Regions from separate parts of the Homo sapiens genome. Here region 2 is linked to region 1. Evidence: fine-mapped expression QTL. Tissue or cell type: whole blood. Region 1 holds a variant in brackets; the other region holds the start of a gene. All regions are shown on one strand. Distances are between the middles of the regions.

Region 1 (8,104 bases):
CCACGTAGCTAGGACTACAGACATGTGTCACCACACCTGGCTAATTTTATTTATTTATTTATTTATTTGAGACAGGGTCTTGCTCTGTCACCCAGGCTGAAGTGCAGTGGTACAATCATAGCTCACTGTAGCCTCGAACTCCTAGGCTCAAGCAATCCTGCCTTCTCAGCCTCCCAAGTATCTGGGACTACAGACATGTGCCACCATGCCTGGCTAATTTTTTTATTTTTTGTAGAGACAGTCTCACCAGCCCAGGCTGGTCTTAAACTCCTGGCCTCAAGTGATCCTCCCTCCTTAGCCTCCCAAAGTGCTGGGATTATAGGCGTGAGGCACTAGGTGCCCATCCCACATAGCAACTTCTGTGCTCTTTTAGCCTGAGGAACTAAGAATTCCTTTCAGTTGGCTTACTAGGGCCTTAAAGACTTAATTTGAAAAATGGGTGATTACAGTATACTACCACCCATTCCTCCAGCTCTCCCTGGTTGTTGCTGAAGGAGAATTCAGGTCTCAATTTACCAGCCCTTTATCTTGAGCCATGCAGTCAATTAAAATCAAAATTGAGGCCAGGGAGTTGTGTTCAGAGATTGTAATTCTGTGTACTGGAAGGATCTTTTCTTTGAAATTGACTATTCCGGCTCCTCCCTATGTTTGTAGTTCTTTGGCTGCATGCACTAACTGTCTTCCTGACTTTCTCTGCTGGAGTCAACCTTGCAGACCTGCTATTACTACCAGTGTGTAAAGTTGTGTTAGAAATGCTTGTTCCCTGGTGCTGTAAAGAAATAGCACTTAACATAAATTTAATTTTCTCAGCAAGGCCATTTTCACTTTCTGCAGAAAGGGTACACTCGCCAGCAGTTTTGCCACGAGAGTACACTGAACAAAGGAGACAGGGTCATTTATAATCTGATGCGTCCACCCTACTGCTGTGTCGGTTTCCATTGGCTGGAACAGGACCTCACATTCTGTATTTGTCCCAGTTGGCTAGCAACTTAGAACTTTTTAAGAGAGGCAAAGGCAGAAGAGGACAAAGGAAGGAGGAAGTAACTTGTGGAATGCTGAGAAAGGTAAAAACACCTTCAAATAAGGAAGAAGAACAGGCTATGACCTAATGCTTGCTTGGACCAGTAGAAGCATGGCAGGGCAAATATTTAGGCTAAATTGTGGGAACTAAGAACATAAAGTACATTGATTTCTTTATTATGGCTAGAGATATTTAAGAATATTAACACAGGTCTTTGAATAAATTTTGCTTCTAAGAGAAGTTACTATTTATTCCTAATTAGATGGGGAGGAAAGTCTTTGAAGAGGAACCTCTACTTTGCTTTTTACAATTGTTTCTTCTAATCTCAACTAGTTTCCCCTGAGGATTGGTAATGTCCAGTAGTGGCTAACCAACATTTACAAAGAGGAAGAGAGGGCTGTAACTTTGGAATTTTAATGGTAAAAACCAAAGGGATTTTAATGGTAAAAACCAATTGCCCTGTTCTAAGCCAGGGAAATTCCTTAACACAGGTTTCAAGATACCTCACCAGCTTTCCCCAGCCTTCCTCTCGCTCCAGCCCACCTTAATTTTTTTTATACTTCAGCTTAGACTGCTTCAGCTAGACAAACCTGATTGCCATTTCCTTTCCCATGCAACTTCCTTCTCTGAAAAATAGAGCTGGAGGAAGTTGAGACGCAGAAAAGAGAAACAAGTTACCCACACCACATTTTGGTCCAGGTTTCCTTCTCCAGCATCACACTTCTATTCCTACTTGAAAAAAGAAAAATAGCTCAGAGGGGTCTCTAAGTCACCCTCCCCACAACCACCTATATCCCCCAAACCCCACCTCCATGCCCCGGATGCAATTGTTTAAAGGGATTTTGTTCTTTATTTTCTTCCCTATAGTTTCCTGACTAGCTGCCTCACCCATTATCTTCATGTTCCTGGGATGTGTGATACAAATAACAATGTATAGCCAATCAATATCTTAGGTTATTTTTATGTAAATTCTTGGTAAATAGTTTAGGAACTGCCTTTTTCTTTTCCTTTAAAAGAAGGAAAAGGCTACTACCACTTGTACCTGTTAGAAGAAATAAAGTTCCAGAAAAAGAAAAGAAAAAAGAAAAACCCACTTGTAGGCAGGTGCAGTGACTCCCACCTGTATTCCCAGCACTTTGGGAGGCTGAGGGGGGTGGACCACTTGAGCCTAGGAGTTTGAGACCAGCCTGGGTGACATGGTGAAAGCCCCATCTCTATCAAAAATACAAAACTTAGCCAGTCTCATAACCCAGTCAATAAATAAATAACTAGATTAAAAAAAAAACACAACTGCTGCTACTGGGAGGATAGATTCAGGGCAACTTGAATCTATGCTTCTGGGTTGCAGTCCTCAAACTTGGCCCAGGTAAACTCTCCACTCAGAATGTATTTTCCTTTAGGTCGATATAGCTGGCGTAAGTCAGCAGGATTCAGAGTGAATCCCCCACAGCAACCACCCATTGTTTTTCTCTGAAGGCAGTGGTTGGTACTAGCACAAACCCATTGCGTTCTCCATCTTCAGAAGTCTCATTGGTGTTGCGGGTGAGTTCTCCTGAATCCAGACTCCCGTTTCTTTGGTGGAGGTCTAGACTTTGAGCGGTTTCTCTTTGACTCTCTCTGAATGAGGGTTCTGTCTCTGACTTTCCTGTTTAAGTCAGGAGATCAGGATATTTTTCTGGCAACTCACAGGTCTGGAGTTAGCAGTTTGCTTCCATTTTCGGCCAAGACATTGTTACATCATGACCTTTCATTTTGGAAATCAAACTTTTATGCATGACCAACCTCTCTTAGATTCCCTTTTTCTAATATATGAGAGTGGATTCTTCACTCCAAAGATAAAAGGCACTCGCTCCCTCCAGCCCGTTAGGGCACCCTAAACAATTAGCGACTTGCTGGGGGTATTGGGACTTTCGTGCCTTAAAAGGTTTCCTCTCTCAGGAGAACATCCGTAATCTCTCTCACTCTGCCAACAAGTGCACATAAAGGCTGGCCACTTAGCACTCGTGAGGACTTTGTGACCCTCTGGGGATCAATGTTTCTGAGACACATAAAAACGTGGACACAACTCAGTAGTGACACACTAAGGAGTCACACTCACAAGCAGCACATTTTGACCCAAAACACAGCCCAGAACTTGGCTGTGAGTGATTCAGGCCTCTAAATTATGGGTAACAAACCTATTCAAGTCTGAAGACTCTCTAACGACGCAGCCTCCCTTGGAAACATCGGCTGATATTCTGTATAACACTTACGGAGCTTTGTCTTGCAGACATTTGAACAAATGGGCCCACAGGACTTCAGATGACCCTAAATTACAATAGCCAAAACGGAGGTCCTTTGATAGATCAGAAAAAAAAAAAAAAGCTATTTTAGAACCAAACAGAATGGGAGACCTACTTTCTACTTGTCCTGGCTGAAATCTGATAAAAGATTTGAAAAGATTTTTTTAAAGAGCTCTATGGTTAGAAATCAGCTTAATTAAAAGCTGATATTCAGGGCATAATTTTTATTGACAAAAAGGGCCTTTCTGCTTTTTCTCCCTGGGATCCCGTTTCTGGGAATTCTTTTTCAGTCAACTGAAACTCCT[T/C]TTGAAAAAAAAAAGTTTAATCTCTCCATTTGCTTCCTTTCTTGTTGGCATGATTTTGCTGAGAAAAACGTAAAACTTCATTGGTCTTTCAGAAAATTTAAAATCTTTCCAAATTAGCCCCGCTAGGCCTTGTTCTTCCATTTCCTTCCACTTCCGCTCCTCCTTTCTTTGGCCATCTTTGATACCACGTGAAGAAATCTAGAGACTTCTAGCAGAGACTTCTGAGACCTCTTGAGGAACACAGGAAAAGGCACCACACACGCACACGCACACACATGCACGCTCACACACGCAAGCGCACACTCACGCACGCGCACATGCACGCGCATGAATATGCACGCACACGCATGCACATACGCACACAGACACGGACACACACACGGACGCATACACACGCAACCACACACGCACACACGCACGCACACGTGTGCACACACATGCACACACACACACACGCACACACACATGCTCTATTTTGTGGTCTTCTCTTTCTTTTGTGGAGTCCTGAGAATTGTGGGCATACTTTTCTCAGGTCTAAAGCTCTGCTCTCTTTTGCATTGAGTTTCCTGGTCTCTGGCTTTTGGAGTACAAAAGGATTACTTTGTATTGAGAGAGAATTTGACCTTTGTGTGTGCAGTGGCTGGCAAGTGACTGGCAAAAGCTGCAGTTTTAGAAGTAGCTGACAGCAAATGCAGCGAATGGTTATTACTGCAGGGGGCTACTTGTTTCGTTATGTGTTTAGATAAGAAAGGTGAAGTTCGAATGCTTGGAGGTTATGAAAACATTCTCCAACAAGGGGTAAGACCTCCTGTGGGGGATGGGCTGACCACAGAATGGGCTGATGTTGCAAGGAGCACTGTGGAAACATTGTGTGGCCCTGGACCCATGGCATTCTTTCCTCTTTTGGGGACCTGCGATTCAAAGTAAAAGTGGGATTCTTGATTTTTAAAGATCTAGATCACCTTCCCAGCTGTGCCTGCTTTTCACGTGTTTAATTATTAGGCCCTGAGAACAGCAAATACTTTCTTGGCCCTATTTGTTAATGGGCTCCACCCTAAGCTCAGTAATCCAGTTAAGAAATGGAAAACTAAATTTAAAAATCCACCTATCCAACTAGATTAGTCTTCAAAATACAACTTTCTGGCATTTGGCTGGCTACTTTGAAAAGGTTTTGGTTCGGGACAGGCAAGCCCCAAAATCGGGGCTTAGCCCGGGAGGGTTCCCAGCTTTGCCCAGGAAAGAACTCAGCAACTTTTACTGAAGTGGCCGTGTACAGCAGCAGCAGAAGGGCTGCTGCTGTGGAGCAGGGCTGCCCCAGAGTAGCTCAGAGTAGCAGAGTAGCAGCTCAGAGGTGGTTCTGCTCTCATCTTTATACCCACTTTTAATTATATGCAAATTAAGGGGTGGTTTATGTAGAACTTTCTAAGATGAGGGGAGTAACTACTGGGTCCTCCGGTTGTTGCCATGAAAGGGGGCAGTAACGGCTGGGTGTTGCCATGGCGATGGTAAACTGACATGGCACACTGGTGGGTGTGTCTTATGGAAAGCTGCTTCCTCCCTGGACCTGTTTGAGCTAGTCTTCAGTTTGGTCTGGTGTCCAAGCCCCACCTCCAGAGTTGAGTCCTGCCTCCTACCTCAGTTTCTGAATTTTTTTCTAGGCCCATCTATGTATTTCCTTGCACAACTTTCTAGTGAATTCCTATGATTTTGCATTACCTTGACATCCACTTTTAATCTTCCTTTAACACATGTAAACTCCTTCTTGAAAATGCGTACATTCTCTCTCCTTTGAGACGCAATTTGCTTCCCTGTTTTCTCTGAAACTCCATAAGGGCTTGTGAAAACTTTAATCTGTTCCATTTAGAGAGACAGAATTTAATCCAACTGTCCTTTTAAACTAGTGAGTTTTACCTGTCTGATGACAAATTTTAAACTCAAAGCTGTAAAAATCTTTTTTTTTTTTTTTTGAGACAGTCTCGGTCTGTCACCCAGGCTGGAGTACAATGGCATGATTTTGGCTCACTGCAACCTCTGCCTCCCAGGCTCAAGTGATTCTTCTGCCTCAGCCTCCTGAGTACCTGGGACTACAGGTGCGCACCACCATGCCAGGCTAATTTTTGTATCTTTAAAAGAGACAGGTTTTTGCCATGTTGGCCAGGCTGGCCTCAAACGCCTTACCTCAAGTGATCCACCTGCCTTAGTCTCCCAAGGTGTTGGGATTATAGGCGTGAGCCATTGCACACAGCCAAAGCTATAAAAATCTTAATTTGTGTCTGTGTCTATTTTTTTTTTTTTTGAGATGGAGTTTCGCTCTTGTTGCCCAGGCTGGAGTGCAGTGGTGCGACCTCGGCTCATCACAACCTCCGCCTCCCAGGTTCAAGCGATTCTCCTGCTTCAGCCTCCCAAGTAGCTGGGATTACAGGCCTGTGCCACCATGCTCGGCTAATTTTATATTTTTAATAGAGATGGGGTTTCTCTATGTTGGTCAGGCTGGTCTCAACTCCCGACCTCAGATGATCCGCCCGTCTCGTCCTCCCAAAGTGCTGGGATTACAGGCGTCAGCCACCATGTCCAGCAGTGTCTATTTTTTATGTGTATCTGTGTACATGCTGTGTTTTTATATTGTCTACATGATACCAAGTTGACTTATAAATAAGTGAGCACTCATAAACTAAGTAAATAAGCCCAAATGCTTTTCAGGTTCACACGATTTTTAGTAACCTTTGGTAAATAAAACTAGTTTTTAAATTGTTGTTAAAATTAAATTAGAAAGTTTGAAGACTAAATATAGTTCAAACATTTTTACGTGGTCTATTGGTCAAACAGATGTATACCGTCTCTGCTAGATGTTTTAAGATTATAAAACTGTTGCCTCAGCTGAGTGTGGTGGCTCACACCTATAACCCCAGCACTTTGGGAGGCAGAGGTGGATGGATTACTTGATTAGCTGGGTGTGGTGTGGTCGCACACACCTGTGATCCCAGCTACTCAGGAGGCTGAGGCACTAGAATTACTTGAACTCAAGAGGCGGAGATTGCAGTAAGCCAAGATCGTGCCACTGGGCTCCAGCCTGGGCAACAGAGTGAGACTCTGTCTCAAAAAGAAACCCCAAAAAACAACAAAAAAAACCCTGTTGCTTCTGTGATATTTTTGATACCTGCTGAATTTGTCTGTGACCTAAAGTGGTGAGGGCTGGCTGCTGGGCTTCCCCCAATCCTTGCACACATTTTACAGTGAGCTAACATCTTTGGTTTTGAGCCTTTAGGTTCTGGGGTCTAGACAGGTGGCCTTGGTGAGGCCTGAAGACATTGGCATGTCCATAGCACCAAGGACACTAGCTGCAGGGCAGGGCCAAACCCAATATGTCCTCCCTGGCCCAGCTGTGCCTCCTGGGGACATGCTGGGAAGGGTTGGCCTTTTTAGGCATCTTTACATCTTGGTCCTGTCCTGAGCTCTATACCTGGTATGTAAATTCAGGACCCAGATGGTCCCTGCCCTTTATAGCCATTCTGAGTGCCATATGGGTACTTGGGACCCAGGACAACTGAGGAACACATTGGGGAGGGTACTTGTATAATAATTTCAAAATTGCTTTCAGGAATTTAAACTCTTAAAATAATGTTATGTTAAGGCCAATTGCTATGATTTACATCTGTAATCTTAGCACTTTGGGAGGCAAGGAGTTCAAGACCAGCCTGGGCAACATAGTAAGACCCATCTCTAAAAAAGAAAAAAACAATTAGCCAGGCATGGTGGCATGTGCCTGTGGTCTCAGCTACTAAGGAGGCAGGGGTGGGAGGATTGCTTGAGCCTGGGTGGGTGAGGCTGCAGTGAGCTCTGATTGCACCACTGTACTTCAGCCAGTGCAACAGAGTGAGATCCTGTCTCGAATAATAATTGACCTTATTTGTGTAATCTGTTTTTTTTTTTTTTTTTTTTTTGAGACTGAGTCTTGCTCTGTCATCCAGGCTGGAGTGCAGTGGCGTGATCTCGGCTCACTGCAAGCTCCACATCCCAGGTTCACACCATTCTCCTGCCTCAGCCTCCCAAGTAGCTGAGACTACAGGTGCCCGCCACCACGCCCGGCTAATTTTTTGTATTTTTAGTAGAGACGGGATTTCACCGTGTTAGCCAGGATGGTCTCGATCTCCTGACCTCGTGATCCGCCCGCTTAGCCTCCCAAAGTGCTGGGATTCCAGGCGTGAGCCACCATGCCTGGCCGATTGCGTAATATTTTTAATTCTTAAATTGATTATGTCTTATGTTTCTAAGTGTCTAAAATGTGAATCAAAAAGTACCTGAGACAAGTCTCAATCAATTTAGAAAGTTTATTTTGCCAAGGTTAAGGACACACCTGTGACACATGTGCCCAAGGTGTTTGGGATATAGCCTGGTTTTATACATTTTAGGGAAATGTGAGACATCAATCAATATATGTAAGATGTACATTGATTTGGTCTGAAAGTCAGGACAACTCAAAGCAGGCTTCCAGGTCA
Region 2 (8,104 bases), 64 kb after region 1:
TAAAAAAGAAGTGTATGGTTTCTTCCAACCTCTTGTACTTATACCATTCCCTCAAAGAGAAAGAGAATTAAGAGGAAATGTCTTAAACACAAAGGAATTTAATGTTATGGTGCCCTGGGTCTGAATGCTCTGAAGAGGGCAACATTCTGGAGGTGCCAATTTTCAGATGAGCATTTAAAATGTCAGCGTTGGGCAAACATTTTATTTTGTCTTGAACTCATCCCCCCTTAATATCTTGGGTACGACCATTCTCTACATTTTCTCTCTGTGCTACTAAACTTAGAGGATGCAAGTCAGGATTGGGAGGAGACTGATTTTGTGTGTGTTTGGCCTTTACTGCAGAAGAAAAAGAACTGCAACTAGGCCGGGCGCGGTGGCCCATGCCTGTAATCCCAGCACTTTAGGAGGCCGAAGCAGGCGGATCACGAGGTCAGAAGTTCAAGACCATTCTGGCCAACATGGTGAAATTCCGTCTCTACTAAAAATACAAAAAATTAGCCGGCTGTGGTGGTGGGCGCCAGTAATCCCAGCTACTAGGGGGGCTGAGGCAGGAGAATCGTGTGAACCTGGGAGGCGGAGGTTGCAGTGAGCCGAGATCGTGCCATTGTACTCCAGCCCGGGAGACAGTGCAAAAAAAAAAAAAAAAAAAAAAAAAGAACTGCAACTAATCAACATTTATTTAGTGAGCACAACTTATGTGAGGCACTATAACTTACATAAGTTGTGCTGAACTCATGGTGGCTTATAGTCTATTGGGGGAGGTATATATATCAAGGCGTGACTTGGTAATTACTTGGAGAAGGAGAAATGCAAACTGAAGTAGTTGGCCAAATATCCTAAGGTAGGGTCTTTTGGTTTTGTTAAAGAAGAATAAATTCAGATTCAGGAATGAATGTGGAGAAAACTGGGAATGAAACAGGCAGGAATGAGTAAGCTATCTGGGACAGTGCAAAGGCCTTTCTGACCAGATCAGACGGTGTGTGTGGGGGAAAGCACAACTGGATAGGTGGGGTGGGGCCGAATTATGGGGGATTTTTAAATAACCAGGCAAAGGAATGTGTACTTGATTTAGCAGACAGTGGAAAACTCTAAAGTGGTTTGTTTTTTTTACACAATCTCACTCTGTTACCCAGGATAGAGTGCAGTGGGGCAGTCTTGGCTCACTGCAACCTCCACCTCCTGGGTTCAAATGATTCTCCTGCCTCAGCCTCCTGAGTAGCTGGGACTACAGGCATGTGGCACCACGCTCAGCTAATTTTTGTATTTTAGTAGAGACGGGATTTTGCCGTGTTGGCCAGGCTGGTCTTGAACTCCTGGCCTCAAGTGATCTGCCTGCCTCAGCCTCCCAAAGTGCTGGGATTACGGGCATGGGCCACTGGGCCCAGCCTCAGAAGTTTTTAAATGACATGATTTTTTTTTTTTGGAGACAGTCTCTTTCTGTTGCCCAGGCTGGAATGCAGTGGCACCATCTCGGCTCACTGCAGCGTCCACCTCCTGGTGGAACCAGTGATTCGCCTGCCTCAGCAACCCGGGTAGCTGGGATTACAGGCACGTGCCACCATGTCTGGCTAATTTTTGTATTTTTAGTAGAGACAGGGTTTCACCATGTTGGCCAAGTTGGTCTTGAACTGCTGACTTCAGGTGATCCATCCACCTCGGCCTCCCAAAGAGCTAGGATTACAGGTGTGAGCCACCGCGCCCGGCCTTGTTTTTTTTTAATGGAGGAGTGGGGCACAGTTTTAGGGAGGTTGGTTCAGGAAGGGATGCAAGATAGATTAGAGGGCAGGAATTGATTCAGTTCTCAGAGAACTTCCCTGGAAAAGAAAGTCCTAGATCTTTGCCCCAAGCCCAATGCCAGGCTGAGGTATATTTCACGACCTTTCTGATTGAAATCTACTGACAGAAAATACACTGGATCTAAGATCTTGTGAGATCTTGCCCAAGCTCAACCCGGCCCACTAACCTTTTGTGTTCATGGCATGAAATGCCCACACTTGGTTCTGGTTTGGGCTGGCACCCTCCCCGGCTTGCTTCACTGTGGTGCGATGTTTCCAAAGCTTCCACACTCCAGAAAGGGCTATAACTTCAGTTTCCTCATTTTTACAAAAGGTCAAGTTTTCAAAAGCTTAGATCCGCTGGGATTTGTCTATGTTGATGAAGATACATGAAAACTGGGGGACATTGCAGTTGACCTTTAGAACCCTCTCTCCACCCCCACCCCCATCTCCATTACCCCAGAGCTAAGCCTCCTCAGGACCTAGTACTTCTCTTCATTCAGTGTTTTCTCACACTGCTGAAAATTACCTGTGACTCATACAAGTGGTTCAAGCTGCTCAGTCCCAGACAGGAATGTTGAGTCTTGCCAGCTGACATGTTGGGGTCACAAGAAAGAGAGAGCAAGTGTCCTGTGGGCTGGAATCAGGGGAGATGCACAGACACCCTGTGAACATTCCAGAGTGCAGGGCTGAAGAATGGCCTGAATGGAGCCGTTAGGCTGATTTCCCTGTGGTCAGAGGCTAGCTGCAATTTTACCCTCCCTTCCCTGCCCAAACACTCCTGACACTGGAATTTCATCAAACGGCTACCGTGTTTGGTTTTCAACCAGGACAAACAAAGAAAAGAGATTTGTTTTCCTGTCTGCTTTTGCTGAATGGAATCTCTGATTCTACTTACCAGCGTGCCTCAGACACCCTGGGGCTGGTTAGGACTTTAAGCACACAGGAATCTCAGCTTTACTCAATCTTTTTCCATATCCTGAGCCCGAGTTCAGACTTCATCCTCCCGGGTCCCCCATGTCCCTTCAACGTCTGATTAATTCTCCAGTCAACTCCCTGCTAATAGTCCACCCACAAATTGCTATTTCAGCTGACCTTCCCCAAAACTTGAGCATCCTTACCAAATACCTTGGGCTTCCTCATAACCTGGTTATCTTCTCATCTGCATGCCTTTCTGGAATAATTTTGAAGTATTAAAAAAAACTCCTCTAATTGTCAAGGGCATGCAGGAAGCTCAGCCCCTAAGGAGCATTGCAGAAATCTGGAGTTCTACTCTGTTTATACCTAAATCTAGCCTTCCAGGAGTTTCAGATAGTTTCCTGGAAACATTTTGTGCTTTGTGTTTTTCACCTTTCTCTCTTAATTGAATATGGGGTGAGGAGCAAGAAAGGGGATTGTGAATTACAATTACAAACAGTACACACATAACACAGGGACAATCTTTGCATTTCTCATTTCTGATCCCAGGGATCAGAGGTAGAGGCAGGCCAGGCGCGGTGGCTCACGCCTGTAATCCCAGCACTTTGGAGGCCGAGGCAGGCGGATCACGAGGTCAAGAGATAGAAACCATCCTGGCCAACATGGTGAAACCCCGTCTGTACTAAAAATATAAAAATTAGCTGGGCGTGGTGGCGCGCGCCTGTACTCCCAGCTACTCGGGAGGCTGAGGCAGCAGAATCGCTTGAGCCCGGGAGGCGGAGGTTGCATTGAGCAGAGATCACGCCACTGCACTCCCGCCTGGTGACAGAGGGAGACTCCGTCTCAAAATAAATAAATAAATAAATAAAAATTTAACAAAAAAAGGTAGAGGCAGCTCTCAGGTGAGTAAATTCGCAGATGCCCACGCATGTCTGGAACATACCCCAGGGGTCATTAGAGACTGCCCAGCAGAGGCGGGAGGATCTTCCGTTTGCTTTTCCTTCAGAACGTTTGTCCGGAGAGCATCCTGTTCTGTTATATGCATATCCACCTCCGTCTCCAAATTACTAGGTTGAGCACAGTGCTCAGTGCCTGGCATTGAGTTAGAAATAGAAAATGAGCTGGCGAGTCCCGGCCCGAGGCTGTGACAGGGGCCATTACTGAGCCCACTCCCCACCAACCTTTCTGCGGTTTAACTGACTCTCCTCCTTCCCCTCCAGATCCCAAGGGCTTGACTCCTACCTCCTCTAAGGCATTTTGAAAAGTTTGCAAATGCACCCTTGATCCTAGCACGTACTTAAGAAGCGGCTCCCCCCTAGAACGTCAGGCTTGAAGCTGACCCCTTCTTCCTCCTCCCGCGCCATTTGGGTCTGTGCGCAGGGCCGGAAGCCTGCTGGGGAGGGGCACGAGGCCGGGCTGGGGCCTCTCCGGAGGGAGCCCGCCGCCCCGCCCAGGGCGCACGCACCCAGCCTCTGAGGGAGGAAGCTGAATGGGGCCAGAGGCTGGCCCTCTTTGGGGATTTGCATTATACAGGCTGTATTTAGAAGCAGCGGCGGGGAGCGGTGGCTCACGCCTGTGATCCCAGCATTTTGGGGGGCCGAGGCGGGCAGATCACCTGAGGCCAGGAGTTCGAGACCAGCCTGTCAACATGGTGAAACTCCGTCTGTGCTAAAAATACAAAAAAAATTAGCCAGGCGTGGTGGCCGGAGCCTGCAGTCCCAGCTACTCGGGAGGCTGAGGCAGGAGAATCGCTTGAACCCGGGAGATGGAGCTTGCAGTGAGCCGAGATCACACCACTGCACTCCAGCCTGGGCAACTCAGCGAGACTCCGTCTCAAAAAACAAAACAAAACAAAACAAAACAAAAAACCAAGAAAAAGAGAATAAAAAAAAATAGAAGCAGCTTTCTTGCTGATAGAAAGCAATGACCCTCTCTGCTATAATTACAACTGAAGAGTCACTTTCTTTCAAAAACTCTATTTTCAGATGTTTACCACTTTCTTTAAAAAGGAAAAAAAATTTGCCTCAAAGGCAGGCAGTCCCCAGGGCATTTCTGGTCTCCTGGGGAAGGAACCTAAGAGCGGTTTGGTAAAATTCCATTTTGCTATCTTGGCGTTACCTAAGGGCAAGAACTGAGGTGGGGCTTTGGTGACAGCAGGGGCTGAAGAGTGCTCTTTTTCATCATCCAGGGTGTCCAATTGTTTTGTTTCCCTGGGCCACATTGGAAGAATTGTCTTGCCCCACACATAAAATACAGCAACACTAACAATGGCTGATACACTTTTAAAAAATCGCAAAGAAACTTCATATATATATATATATATATATATATTTTTTTTTTTTTTTTGAGTTTTGCTCTTGTCGCCGAGGCTGGAGTGCAACGGCACGATCTCGGCTCACCACAACCTCTGCCTCCCAGGTTCAAGTGATTCTCCTGCCTCAGTCTCCTGAGTAGCTGGGATTACAGGCATGCGCCACCAGGCCTGGTTAATTTTGCATTTTTAGTAGAGACGAGGTTTCTCCATGTTGGTCAGGCTGGTCTCAAACTCCTGACCTCAGGTGATCCACCTGCCTCGGCCTCCCAAAGTGCTGGGATTACAGGCGTGAGCCACCATGCCCAACCAAGAACTCATAATGTTTTAAGACAATTTACGAATTTGTTTTGGGCCGCGTTCAAAGCCGTCCTGGGCTGCACGGGGCCCACAGGCTGTGGGTTGGACAAGCTTGCTGGACTGTCATGAAGTTTTGAGTAGGTTAATTGCGTGGAGAGACCTGGAAGACAGGATCCTGGGTTGTACTGTACTCTCCCCGCCATTGGACCTGTGCTCCCTCCACCCAGGTGGCATCGCAGTGGCCAATGGAGAACAGAGCCAGACTGCCTCGGTGCAAATCCCAGGCTCCTAGTCCTGTGGACCACTTACTCCTTCGGTGAACTTGGGAAGCTGTTCATCCTTCCGGCTTCAGTTTTCCCACATGTAAAATGAAGATAATAATGGCACCTACCTCAGAGGATCATTGTGAGGATTAAATGAATTACCACAATAAGAGGGTATCATTGCCAGAAAGGGGTCCCGATCCAGACCCCAAGAGAGGGTTTTTCGGATCTTGTACAAGAACTCTGGGCTAGTCCATGAAGTAAAGTGAAAGCGAGTTTGCTAGACAAGTAAAGAAACACGAGAATGGCTACTCTATAGGCAAAGCAACCCTGAGGGCTGCTGGTTGGCTATTTTTATGGTTATTTCTTGATCATATGCTAAACAAGGGGTGGGTTATTCATGAGCTTTTTGGGAAGGAGATGGAGATTTTCCCCCTCCCCCAGTTGAGGACTCCTCCTTCTTTTAGACCATATAGGATAATTTCCAGGTGTTGCCATGGCATTTGTAAACTGCCATGGTGCTGGTGGGAGTGTCTCTTAGCATGCTAATGTATAATTGGCATATACTGAGCAGTGAGGACAACCAGTGGTCACTTTCATTGCCATCTTGGTTTTGGTGGGTTTTGGCAGGCTTCCTTACTGCATCCTGCTTTATCAGCAGGGCCTTTGTGACCTGTGTCTTGTGCTGACCTCCTATCTCATCCTGTGACTAAGAATGCCTAACCTCCTGGGAATGCCACCTAGCAGGTCTCAGCCTCATTTTACCAGCCCCTATTCAAGATGGAGTCATTCTGGTTCGAATGCCTCTGCCATAGACACGTATTATATATGCATTACCATGCTTATGTTTTTTGCTTTCCCTGTCTGTAAAATGAGGAAATGCTATTAACTGTTATGTTGGTCACTCTGTACCAGAAAAGCCAGGAAGAGTGTCCACTGTGTGCCAGACCCTTGTAGGTGACGCTGTGAGGAGACGCAGAAGAACGGAAAGACCTGGCTCCTTCCTATGTACTCTGAGATCTCTATGAGGAGGCTTCCCCCTTCCCCTCTAGGAAGACTCCTCATAGAGATCTCAGAGTACATACGAAGGGGAAACATCCACACCCAGTTTTCCCTGGTGGAAAGGTGTGACACAGAGGCCTGCCAGAGGCTCATGGCCCCTTCTCCACCCAGAGCAGCATCTCAGCTCAACCTGGGGATCCAGTAAAGCGGTGCAGGGATCCTGCAGGCTCTGGCAAACTCAGCCTTGACCTTTGGATCCAGCTCTCTGTCCCCATGGCCAGTCTTTTCACTCCCAGGCCTTCTGTCTGGCACAGGGTGTGAAAGAGGAGCCGGGGGCAGGGCGGGGAGGATGCGGCAGGGACAGGGACAGGACAGGAAGGACTTGGCCTAGCTGATTGAGACTTTTTTTTTCTTTTTGAGACGGAGTCTCGCTCTATCGCTCAGGCTGGAGTGCAGTGGCCCAATTTCAGCTCACTGCAACCTCCACTTCCCGGGTTCTCCTGCCTCAGGCACGCAAGTAGCTGGGATTACAGGCATGCACCACTGTGCCCAGGGATTACAGGCATGCGCCACTGTGCCCAGCTCCAGTTGAGATTTTGGCAGGGGTCTCTTGAGCAGCTGATGGGCTCCTGTCACTGCGCCCAAAGTCTGTCCCAGGCGAGTCTGGTTCCACTTAAGCCCAGGTCTGGGCACAGAGGTGCCACCCTTAATGTGTGTGCAGTATGCTGCAGCTGTACCCACGAAGTCTGCCCCTGCCTCTCATGAACACCCAACCCATTCGAGGCTCCAATAATTAGAATTTTCCTTGCTTCACTTTATCCATCTAAATCCTATCGAACTTGTCAAGGGCTACGTCAGTCTCACCTCCTCCATGAAGCCTTCTCTGATTGCCCAGCTGACATCAGTCTTACTGTCCTAAGTTTCCTAGTTCTCTATTTCATTCATTTAGAAATTAGAAAGTAGAAATGTACTTAATTATATTCTCAAAAAATATTTGAGCACCTGTTTGATTGCAAGGCAGGGAGGGTGGCTGTTGGGGCATCCATGAAAATACAGGACAGAATCTTCTAACAAGAAGCTTCAATTCTAAAAGGATGATAAAAATTCTAAAGGCATGGCCTAGAAAATTCCTTATTGCCATATATTGCTTTTCAGGTTGGATGCTATGATTTAATTCAAAAATAATAGTTAACAGTTATTAGGTGCTTGCTATGGGCCATTACTGTATTTAGCACTTTACACAAATTATTCTATTGAATTTTTTTTTGAGATGGGGTCTGGCTCTGTCACCCAGGCCGGTGTTCAGTGGTACAATCATAGCTCACTGCAACCTCGAACTCCTAGGCTCAGACAACCTTTCCGTCTCAGCCTTTTGAGTAGCTGTAACTGCAGGCATGTCTTACCACACCTGCGTACTCTTTTAATTTTTGTAGAGACAGGATCTCACTATGCTGCCCGGGCTGGTCTTGAACTCCTGGGCTCAAGCAATCCTCCCGCCTCAACCTCTCAAAGTGCTGGGATTATAGGCGCAAGCT

Evidence for each region. PIP is the estimated chance that this variant, and not a neighbour inherited with it, causes the effect.
Region 2: it holds the start of NINJ2-AS1, and the variant in region 1 is fine-mapped to the expression of NINJ2-AS1 in whole blood (INTERVAL, PIP above 0.99).

Annotation. Positions count from the first base shown.
Region 1 is chr12:691,151-699,254 of GRCh38, reverse strand. The region is part of intron 1 of LINC02455 (long intergenic non-protein coding RNA 2455); the gene reads left to right. All of the region lies in intron 1 of LOC101929432 (a long non-coding RNA gene), which reads right to left. Among named protein-coding and RNA genes, the nearest start is that of LINC02455, 21 kb to the left of the region's middle. The variant T/C (reference allele first, on the strand shown) is at 3,609.
Region 2 is chr12:626,817-634,920 of GRCh38, reverse strand. NINJ2-AS1 (NINJ2 antisense RNA 1) reads right to left here and starts at 4,030. Exons shown (of 5, transcript NR_122124.1): 1 at 3,936-4,030; 2 at 2,674-2,707; 3 at 2,305-2,412. All of the region lies in intron 1 of NINJ2 (ninjurin 2), which reads left to right. RefSeq lists silencers at 4,005-4,104, 4,165-4,244.